3 linked regions of the Homo sapiens genome follow. The protein of the gene in region 1 purifies or fractionates together with the protein of each later gene. This does not show direct contact. Each region holds a gene or a part of one and is shown in the gene's direction. Other genes may lie near its edges.

Evidence for each region.
Region 2: the proteins of DUSP15 (region 1) and PTPN5 purify together in Homo sapiens (affinity purification with mass spectrometry; one large-scale study listed by BioGRID and IntAct). This does not show direct contact.
Region 3: the proteins of DUSP15 (region 1) and HLCS purify together in Homo sapiens (affinity purification with mass spectrometry; one large-scale study listed by BioGRID and IntAct). This does not show direct contact.

The regions. Positions count from the first base shown.
Region 1 is NC_000020.11:31,868,279-31,872,027, reverse strand, and holds the start of DUSP15 (dual specificity protein phosphatase 15), read left to right. Parts: upstream 1-1,500; 5' UTR 1,501-1,690; coding exon 1,691-1,711; intron 1,712-1,796; exon of another isoform or gene 1,797-2,218; intron 2,219-2,238; exon of another isoform or gene 2,239-2,322; intron 2,323-2,430; coding exon 2,431-2,464; intron 2,465-2,627; exon of another isoform or gene 2,628-2,875; intron 2,876-3,749. Other genes in the region: probable tubulin polyglutamylase TTLL9, read right to left, coding at 833-901. UniProt on the Homo sapiens protein: May dephosphorylate MAPK13, ATF2, ERBB3, PDGFRB and SNX6.
Region 2 is NC_000011.10:18,785,280-18,788,928, reverse strand, and holds part of PTPN5 (tyrosine-protein phosphatase non-receptor type 5), read left to right. Parts: intron 1-3,649. UniProt on the Homo sapiens protein: May regulate the activity of several effector molecules involved in synaptic plasticity and neuronal cell survival, including MAPKs, Src family kinases and NMDA receptors.
Region 3 is NC_000021.9:36,935,533-36,939,181, reverse strand, and holds part of HLCS (biotin--protein ligase), read left to right. Parts: intron 1-187; coding exon 188-350; intron 351-1,789; coding exon 1,790-2,733; intron 2,734-3,649. UniProt on the Homo sapiens protein: Biotin--protein ligase catalyzing the biotinylation of the 4 biotin-dependent carboxylases acetyl-CoA-carboxylase, pyruvate carboxylase, propionyl-CoA carboxylase, and methylcrotonyl-CoA carboxylase.

The DNA.
Region 1 (3,749 bases):
ATGTGCTGTAAATGTAAAAGACACCAGATTTTGAATAGTTAATACAATTTAAAAAGGATATAAAATATCTCATTTATAGTTTTAAAATACTGACTATATGTTGAAATGATATTTTGGATATATTGAGTTAAATAAAAATATTATCAACAATTAACTTGTTTCTACTTTTTAAATGTGGCTGCACATGTGGCTGGCATTATATTTCATTTGGACAATGCTGGTCTATACCATTAGCTAATGAAGGTAGGAACAATCTCTACCCACTGCTGTGTCCCTAGTCTCTATCATATACTAGATGCTCAGTAAGTATTTACTGAATAATTTGGTATTTATGAGAACTCTGGGCTTTTATGAGAGCTGAGACGGGCAGCCCCATGTATGCTATGAACTTGAGGGAGGAAGAAACAGTTTTATTTTTCTCCAATCACTGTATTTCAAAGGGCTCTGTGGATTCTCTCTGTCCTGCTCTCTATCCACAATCCCCAGTCACCTACTACTATAGATTGAGGGGTGGGGGTGATGGCTGAAGGAACAAAGCTGGTGCAGCTGCTTCTATTTCAGTCCTATAGGAAGTGTCTTGATTATTTTACATTCTCCAGCTTTGGTCCTAGAAGCCAGGAAGGGCTCACCTCAACATCCTCAGAAACACAGATAGGGTTAGCTGGGGGTCACGGGGACTTTCCCAGGGTCATCTAGCAGGTCAGAGGTGAACAGGGCCTCAAACCTTGGTCTCCAGACCCCTTCCAGGACCCTGACCTCTAGCTATTAATACATCCTGATGTAGTCTCCTTCAGACTGGAACCCTCCCTCAAACCCCTCTCCCAACATTCACCTGTAATTTCTTGGGGCACCTAATGGCAGTTGTGCCTGGTCCCAGCAGAGCTTCCCTGGATGGCACCATCCCTCCTAGGGGCCGAAATGGATGGAAGGAAGGAGTGAGAGGATGGATGAATGGATGGGAAGATGGACGAGTGAATGAGTGAACAGGAGGGTGGGAGAATGGATGGGAAAGGAGGAAGGCTGGTTGGTAGGGTGTCTCTGCACGGGTGGAGAGGATGTATCGGAAGGAATTACCCACTTATCCCGTTCCAAGCAGACTCTGAAGAGCAGAGAGCCCTCGGCGATCAAAGTCCAGCCCCGTCACGTTTCTGCTAGAAGCCGAGGCGGGAGAAGTTGGGTGCTTTCCCCCGGGGCCCGCAGGGACGTCCAGGCAGAGCCGGAAGGGGGACGGGAGTTTGTGGGCCGGCCGGGGGGCTCTAGGCGACATCCCCCCATCCGCCCGCGCCTGCCGGTGCCAGGGTGGGGTAAGGCCCCCGCCCCCACCTCCGGAGGTGGCGGCCCCACGCGGCCCCAACAAACTGCCGTTGTCCCGCGGGCCGTGGGCCCGGCACACTGGGGCTTTGTCCGGCCCCCCGCCGCGACCCGAGGCGGGGGCCCCACATGACCGAAGGGGTAGGAGGAGCCTGCGGCGGCGGCGGTGGCAGCGGCGGCTCCACCACCATTTCCCTCCCGGGCCGGGGGTCGGCGGGCGGTGGCGGTGGCTGGGCAGGGCTGGGCAGGGCCGCGGACGCCAGGCCCCCCGTTCCCCGCCAGGCTGCAGGCGTCGGGCCTGGGCCGTCAGGGCAGCTGTGACCGGATCGCTTCCCGGGCGGCGAGCTGGGGGTGCACCCGGACCGCCGCCCCCGGGATCATGGGCAATGGCATGACCAAGGTAGGGGGCGGGCCCCGCGCAGCCTCCCCGGTCCCCGCCCCGGCCGCCGCGGCCCGGCGCTGACCAGCTCGGTCCGCCCGCCTCTGACCTTCTGTTCTCGCCGGTCTCCGTGCGGCGGCATCTCCGTGTCCCTGTGACTCGAGACCGCGGCTGTCGGGTCTCCCCCTCTCTGACCCTGCGTCTCTGTCCCCGCTGTGTCCGCCCTCTCTCCGTGACTCTGTGTGTCTCTCGCTGTCTTGCTGTGGCTGTCACTCCCAGGCTGTCTCCCAGTGAGTCCTGCTCTCCGTCTGCATGTGTCCCTCTCCCTTGTCGCTGACTCCTCGGCTCTCTCCGGGGCTGTTTCTCCATCCTGTCCCGCCTCTGCCTGTCATTGCCTTTCTGCCTCCCCAGCCCCAGAATTTCCATCCCTGCACCCTGCAAGTCTACCTCTCTCCTCTCCTCTCCTCCTAAGACCTGCCTTCCTCCTCTCCCCTCTCATACCCAAGCTGGCCTCCCTTGGTTCCCTCGGTTGGTTAACTGGCCCCCTAGCCTACCCTCCCCAGAGCCCCAGACCCCTCTCACAGAGGACTCAGGGCCCACAAAAGGGAAGAGAGTGCTCCCTGAGCCCTGAGGTCCATACCCTTCATGGGACAGAGAGGGGCTGTGGGCCCCCCAGCTGCCCTGGGGGTGGAAGGGGGTGCAGCCCCTGCCCCACTGACCCTTGCCTGTCCTTCCTCTAGGTACTTCCTGGACTCTACCTCGGAAACTTCATTGGTGAGCACTGCCCACTCTGTCCCGAGGCCATGGCACTCTGCCTGTCTCAGGCCTGTGTCCACCATTCATGCCCTGGCCCATGCATCTCAGGAATGGGGTTGGGGGCAGGGAAGCGGCCCCAGGCTGGGAGGGGGAAAAGGCTGATGGAGGACAAGGGGTGCACATGCAGGCGAGTGTCCCCAGGCTTGAAGGGACATGGAGGGAGCATGGGGGCCTGACACTGACATCCCTCCCCGCCATTCAGCCTTCCCCAGTGTTCTACCACCAGACCAAAGGGCCAGAGCAAAGGGCTCGGGGCCTGGGCTGTGGACCTGAGCAAGTCTACACCTGCGCTAAGCCTCAGCCTCCTCCTCAGCACAAAAGGTCCACCAGCTGCTGAGCACTCTTCTGGCCCTGAGGTTCTGGGTTGAGGTCTGTTTGCGGGTGCTGCTTCTAGCGGGGAAGCTGGGAACTCTTCCCCCCATAACTTCCTCCTTGTCAGAGGAGAGGTCCCTGGAGATGGGCTGGGCCTTCTTGTGAGCAGGGTCATGAGCACCAACACTGTCGCACCCCAGAGCCCTGGAGCAGCTGGGCAGCCTAGAGCTGGAAGTTGGGGGGGCGGTGAGCCGGCAAGCTTTGCATTCCCCACTCTCTCATCCATTCCTTCCACAATCTTCAGTCAGGAGGAGGGGACACCCATGTATAGATACCTTGTTCTTCAGGGGCTTCCAGGCTGGTGGCAGGCAGGCAGAGCTGAACATAGACCTTGGGTAGAAAACATGCTGGGTAGAAACCATGCTAAGGGGGCTGGGCGCAGTGGCTCACGCCTTTAATCCCAGCACTTTGGGAGGCGGAGGCGGGCAGACCACCTGAGGTCAGGAGTTCGAGACCAGCCTGGCCAACATAGTGAAACCCCGTCTCTACTAAAAATACAAAAATCAGCCAGGCACGATGGCAGGCGCCTGTAATCCCAGCTACTTGGGAGGCTGAGGCAGGAGAATCACTTGAACCCGGGAGGCGGGGGTTGCAGTCAGCCGAGATCGTGCCACTGCACTCCAGTCTGGGCAACAGAGCGAGACTCTGTCTCAAAAAAAAAAAAAAAAAAAAAGAGAAAGAAAAAAGAAAAGAAAACATGCTAAGGGGCAGACTGATCCAGGGCTTGGGTGACTCAAAGTGGGAAAATCATTTCCATCTGCAGAGTCAGAAAAAGCTTTAGAGAGGGAGGGGCTCAGGTGCTTCACCCTTGTAAATCCTGGTCCCTTCCTTCCTGGGAGCTCCCTCAGCCGCTCATGCCACCTTGATTTCT
Region 2 (3,649 bases), on another chromosome or scaffold:
TGTCAAAAGCTCTTCCTATACTCTGTCACTTACTCCTCATAAGACATCCGTGACAATAGTGTTATCATCCTCATTTTGCAGATAGGGAAATTAAGGCTTGGATTTTCACTTATCTAAGGGTGCATACCTCAAAAGTCTCAGATCCAGAGAGCTAGGCCTCCAGCTCAGATGATCTGACTCCAGATTCTGAACTCTTTGTTCTGTGTCGTATTGCCTGTCCTTTCCCTAGACTTGCCCTAAAAGAGAGGCGGATAACCCCTTAAAAACAGTTGAAAGAGGACTTTTATTCTCCTCACAGGTCAGTAACGGCTTCTTGGAGAAGCCAAGTAGCATTTAAACTGGGTGAATGATTTGTACGTTAGAAGAAAGGAAGAAAACTATTTCGAGGAGTGGAAATAGCATGAGCAGAGGATGGACAGGCATGGGGACTTCTAGGATATATACAGAAACTGGAAAGCAGTTCATTCCAACTGGAGCAAAAAGAATAAAAGAAGGGACTTGAGAAGGAAGGTTGGGTAAGGGGATGGAGGTTATTGGGGGGACATTGACTGCCAAGCTAAGGAGTTGGGAGTCTTTAGTTTTTGAGTGGGGGAGAAACATAATCAAACCGTAACATGATGAAACTCACTCTGGCTACCCCTTGGAGAACAGATTGGATGTGGAGAGCCTGCTGGCCAGAAGCCCAGGTAGGAAATGATGACAATGGTTTAGGTGAGAGATAAAGAGAGTATGGACTGGGGGTGGTTGTAAGAATGGTTAGAAAAAGGAGTTGATGCAAGAGGCCACAGTGTCACTAAAATTGGTAACTGATTGGATGTAGGCACTAACAGGAGGGAAGAATAAGTGATGGCAAGGCTTTGAGGCTGAATGGCCAAGGATGTCATTCACAGACACAGCCCAATAGGAGGAGGAGTGGGAGGCTTAGGAGTAGGGACTATGAATCTACCAGGGACCATAATGAGCCCTCCTGAAAAGCTGGTTCATCAAGCACCCTAAACTATCAAGAACCAGTTCATTCATTCATTTATTCTCTGAATACATATAAACATCTGTTACATGCCAGGTTGTTCTAGCCCCTAGGGATACGTTGCTAAAAAGACGAACTTCCTGCCCAAGCTCTACCAGGGGAGACAGAAGATAAAATTGTTCAGGTGGTGAGCAGTGCTTTGGAGAAAAATTAAGTAGGAAGAGGGATGACTGGGAGGAAGAATGGAGAAAGAGATCTGCCTTTAAATAGAATTGTCTTTGAGGAGGTGATATTTGAACAAAGACCTGAGTGAAGAGGAGACCTGGGGAACAGCATTCTAAAAAGAGGAGACCACAGGTGCAGAGGCCCTGGGGTAACAATAGCTTGGTGTCTTCAAGGAACCTGAAGTGTACCTGTAAGAGACAGACAAAGGGGGAAAGTGATAAGGAAAAAGGTGAGAGAGTGGGCAGAGCCAATCATGTAAGGGCCTATAGACCTGAAGAATGAGAAGCTGCATGATGTTAATGAATCTAAGAGAACACATATCCTATTCACCTTATATTCTTTGTGCCTAGCAAACCAAGCCTGGCCCTTCACAGTAAATCATTGTTGAATGAGTGAATGAATGAATGAATGAATGAATGTTGGAAATGACCATTTATGTGTGAGACTGCATATCTTAGACTTATATGAACCAATAAATAAAGATATTATACCATAGTAAGGGTATAGTAATCTGTACTATGATCAAAATAATAAAGCTCAGATAACTTGAATGCTGTGTTGTCACTCAAGTATGAAAATTTAAGTGAAGTCTGCATATTTTATTCAGTATGGCTTTATATTATAAACACTGCTGTTGACTAAGACGAAATAGTAAAACGTACCTGAAATGACTGTAAAACAATGAAAATAACATTTTTGGTCTTTCTTCATCCTCCTCCCCGCACAAATATACATCCTTCTGGCTTCATTTCAAATTTTCTCTTGCACTCTCAACCATTTCCTTCATAGAGGTTTTAAGGAAACTCATCTCTAACACAAAGACCCATATTTGCAGGACAAGATGCTATCATCTCCAGTAAACTGACAGATTCCCAAAAAGAGAAGGCAGTGGGGAGGGAGAAATTATTTATAGACATATAAATGCTTCGGGCACCTAATCAGTTGTTGAAATGGATCTACAGGTGGAGATGGGAAAACTGGCTGGACCATGTGAGGGGCTAGGTGACATGCAGGCTCAGTCTTAGAATCACAGGATCTCTGGACCCCCAGTCCAGATTCCATCTGCAGCCACAGGTCTGTCACCTGTCATATGTAGAAGGTAGAAACTCAGGTCATCTCAAGGGGAAAAAAGAAAAACAAAAACTAGAAACTCTTTTCTCTTTTAAGCAGTGTTATCACCAAAAGGCTCTTCCTTATCTTAGGGGATTGTGGAAAATAAGATTCCCCCTATTCTAGGCCGGGTGCGGTGGCTCACGCCTGTAATCCCAGCACTTTGAGAGGCCGAGGTGGGCGGATCATGAGGTCAGGAGATCGAGACTATCCTGGCTAACATGGTGAAATCCCGTGTCTACTAAAAATACAAAAAATTAGCCAGGCGCCGTGGCAGGCGCCTGTAGTCCCAGCTACTCAGGAGGCTGAGGCAGGAGAATGGCATGAACCCAGGAGGCGGAGCTTGCAGTGAGCCGAGATAGAGCCACTGCAGTACAGCCTGGGCGAAAGAGCGAGACTCCGTCTCAAAGAAAAAAAAAAAAAAATAGATTCCCCCCATTCTTTAACATCATCTCCATCTTTTCTGCATCTGGTGAGATGTGGAACGAGCATCATGGCCACCGGTGTCTGGCAAAACTCAGTAATTTCCAAACTCTTAGACTGAGAAAAGCTTTTCCCACTGTGCTGCAGCACATGGAACAGAAGCCACCCTCCTTCCTTTGTCCCCATTGAAGCAAGCGTGACTCAAGTTTCTATACCTGGGGTGTAGCATGTTGGATGGGGAGGGGATCCCCTCACACCAGATGCGGGAGATCCACTGTTTGCAGATTTGTAAGGGAACAAGCATCATGGGAATTCCTAACTTTGGGCTAATGTAAGGGATAAACTGTTCACAGCCAAATTTCCTGGTTAGTCCAGTAGCAAAATAAAGACCCTAAATTGCCCTCCTTTTTTGTGGTGAGGTAGTTGGTTGGAGTCATTAGAGAGACACACCAAGTCCTGAAGTGTCTTTCTGAAGAGTCGACATGAAACAGCCCCTCGCCTCCCATTCCTCTGCAAGCCTTTCGGGAGGGATTTGTGGGCCTCAATGGTGGCAGCATATGGGCATCTGGAATCAATTCTGAAGATTCTTGCAAAACTAACAATGTGTGTATTTCATCATCTGCCTAAAGATGTTGTCTGGTATAAATTATAAATTACAGTTGTGAAAATAACCATACTCCATGCTAGAGAACAAACGTAAGATGAACCATCATTTTATATGCCCTATTCTATGTTTTCTGTAAATCTGTATTTTGTAATAGTTGAAATTAGTCCACATATAGGTTTATAGCCTGCATTTTTCACTTAACATTTTGTCATGACTTCTCTGTTTATACTTGGTTGGCTGACCCCTGCTTTATTTAACTATGTCTTTATTGTTGCACATAGTCAATAATGAGCATCTCCAGGCACATAGCTTTTCCA
Region 3 (3,649 bases), on another chromosome or scaffold:
TAGAGATGAGAATGCTGAATTCAAAACAACTCTGATATTAGTAAAATGTAATATCCAGTAATTTGTTATTAATGACTGTAATTTAGTGGTAGGAGCCTCAAGGGAAAAATAAAGTATGTGGTTATTTTAGAGAAGAAAAATCTCAACCTGTCTTTTCCCACCTCCTCCCTCTCCTGCTTTTTCTCAGATTGTCAAGTGGTCAGACTGTTGTTTGCCATTAGCTTGCAGACCTGGGGATCCTTATCGGCTAATTGCTGAAGCAAGTGTGGACAACTTCAGCAAGCTGGGGGTGGCGTTCATGGAAGATAGACTCCACATGGATAATGGACTGGTACCCCAAAAGATTGTGTGTAAGTAACTTTAGAAAATGTTTTTATTGGCCAGGCATAGTGGCTCATGCCTGTAATCCCAGCACTTTGGAAGGCCGAGGCAGGAGGATCGCTTGGAGCCCAGGAGTTCGAGACCAGCCTGAGCAGCATAGACCCCTATCTCCAAAAAAACAAACAAACAAAAAAATTAGCTGGGTGTGGTGGTGCATGCCTGTGGTCCCGGCTACTTGGGAGGCTGAGATGGGAGGATCACTTGAGCTGGGAGGTTGAGGCCACAGTGAGCCATGATCACGCCACTGCATTCCCATGTGGGTGACAAAGTGAGACCCTGTTTTTATCATAGTGGGACACTATAAGTTATTAGCTTAAGGACTGTTGAGCACTCTTACTGGTATGACATAAAGGCTATGCTTGGTTTCAGTTTAATTCAGTCCACAGGTTTGATTTTACTGTAATAATATACAATTCATGCATGTGTCAAGATTTTTTTGGGGGGCTGCAGGGTACATTTTCAGTGCTTATTAAATTTCTTAAACAAGAAGTTTTCATGACTGCATTGCTCATGAGGTGGCATTCAAATTCAGAACCCATATAATATTTATTTCACATAGTTTAATACAGTATAACTAGTGTCTAGACTACAGTTCTGATTGAGTGGGAAGCATAGCTAGTGTTACTATGAAGTTCTAAATCAAACCGCTTTTTACTTAAAATATATGTATCACAATTTCTTGGGACAAATCGTTTTTCAGGAAACACACAAACTGTTCTTCCTTAATTAGACTTAAAAGCAGGCTTTTTATGTCTATGAATGTCTTCTTTCATCTGATGGGCAAATAAATGTCCCTTATCAGCTTTGGAAGTTTATGTAAATCCCTTAATATCCAGAATCACCTCGTACATGTCTCTAATACCATGTCCGACATGTAGCAAGTGCTCAATAAATGTTTTTGAATTAGTGATTGTCAACTTATGTTCCAGTCCTGAGACAAGATACTGGGAAGAATCTTCTCCCATTGATCCTATGGCATGTCTTGAGAGTGACATTTCACTGGGGCGTGCTGGGGTAGACTCTAGATATGTGTCCTTTTTATTGCTCAGTTTCATTATTGTGAAGGAGAATAACACCCAAGAAATAGAATCTGTAAGTAAGGAGGCAAAGGCACCTCTCTGAATCTCACTTTCTTCACCATTCCGTAAGAGGGTCTTAGGTTCTCCAATAGGTATAAAAGATGTTGGGCAAACTGCTGATTTCACTTGGGGTCTTCAGGTGGGAACAATTAGTGTTTCCAAAGGATGCCCCCGAGTTGAGGGGGGATGCAGGTGGGAGCCGTGCCAGAGGCTGTCCTGGAATGTAAGTCCCAGAATGCAGAGAGGGTGATGAGATTCTTGAGATGAGCTATGTGTCATACAAGAAGTGTTGATTAATTTTCTGTCTCTCTCTCCTATTCATGCCTTAGCGGTGCACTTGCAGGACTCCACTCTGAAGGAAGTTAAGGATCAGGTCTCAAACAAGCAAGCCCAGATCCTAGAGCCGAAGCCTGAACCTTCTCTTGAGATTAAGCCTGAGCAGGACGGTATGGAGCATGTTGGCAGAGATGACCCAAAGGCTCTTGGTGAAGAACCCAAACAAAGGAGAGGCAGTGCCTCTGGGAGTGAGCCTGCTGGGGACAGTGACAGGGGAGGGGGCCCCGTTGAGCATTATCACCTCCATCTGTCTAGTTGCCACGAGTGTCTGGAACTTGAGAACAGCACCATTGAGTCAGTCAAGTTTGCGTCTGCCGAGAACATTCCAGACCTTCCCTACGATTATAGCAGCAGTTTGGAGAGTGTTGCTGATGAGACCTCCCCCGAAAGAGAAGGGAGGAGAGTCAACCTCACGGGAAAGGCACCCAACATCCTCCTCTATGTGGGCTCCGACTCCCAGGAAGCCCTCGGCCGGTTCCACGAGGTCCGGTCTGTGCTGGCCGACTGTGTGGACATTGACAGTTATATTCTCTACCACCTGCTGGAGGACAGTGCTCTCAGAGACCCGTGGACGGACAACTGTCTGCTGTTGGTCATTGCTACCAGGGAGTCCATTCCCGAAGACCTGTACCAGAAGTTCATGGCCTATCTTTCTCAGGGAGGGAAGGTGTTGGGCCTGTCTTCATCCTTCACCTTTGGTGGCTTTCAGGTGACAAGCAAGGGTGCACTGCACAAGACAGTCCAGAACTTGGTTTTCTCCAAGGCTGACCAGAGCGAGGTGAAGCTCAGCGTCTTGAGCAGTGGCTGCAGGTACCAGGAAGGCCCCGTCCGGCTCAGCCCCGGCAGGCTCCAGGGCCACCTGGAGAATGAGGACAAGGACAGGATGATTGTGCATGTGCCTTTTGGAACTCGCGGGGGAGAAGCTGTTCTTTGCCAGGTACTCAGGGCAGCATGGATTTGGTGATCTTTGGGTATCTGTGGGTATTTTTGCGAGGGAATATGTCTTTTAAAGGTACACGCTTAAAAGTTTCAGGAGTTCGTGTGCTGCGGGCTGTTTTTGACTATTGGCTGGGAGCTTTTGCTGATAGTGAGCAGAAAGTTTAGTTTAGTTCAGGGCTTTCTTGAATACCCTGGTTAACCAAAAGACTTGTGAGGGAGGAACAAGGCAGCTGTCAGGGTTAAATGAGCTTGCTGGTTAACTGAGGCTTAGTCAGAAAATTCTCGTTTTGTTCTTTACTAGTAATGATCTTTCTCAAATTCATCGGTCTGCTTTCTTGCCTTAGAGCACCCCTTGGTTAATATAATTGAGTCTTTATTTAAGGTAGGAAGTTGAAACCATCAGGGTAGTGATTCTAGACGTCAGTGACCACTGCGATGAAATACTGCAGTTGATTGCCAAGGTAGTTGGTGTTGAAAACATCTTCAGGTTCCCAATTCCTTTCTTATGTTTTGTCACTCTTCCAAGTGCTGAAAAGAAAAACTTCAAATAAGAGAATATTGAAGCTACTTAGATTTGTGGCATACTAATACATAGGTAGGGGGAAAATGGAAAGAGGATGAAAGGAAAATGCTAGTTTCTTTTTCTTGCGTAGGAGATCCTTTGGCTCATCTTCTTTTTCCTTTTAGCTTTTTGTTTGTTTAAGCAAACGGTAGCGGATAAACTATTTCAGAATTCCTTGTCATTGACTCCAAATCTTTTAATCCTTAGGGGAAAAGGTTTTCATTAGAGTTAGATGAACATTCACTTGCCCTAAAGGATTTGATGCTCTAATGAGAAAACTACGCAGATGTAGATATTTTGTCCAGAAGAGTTCCCAAGATAAGTGTAATCGATTTTGTTTTATTATAGGGAT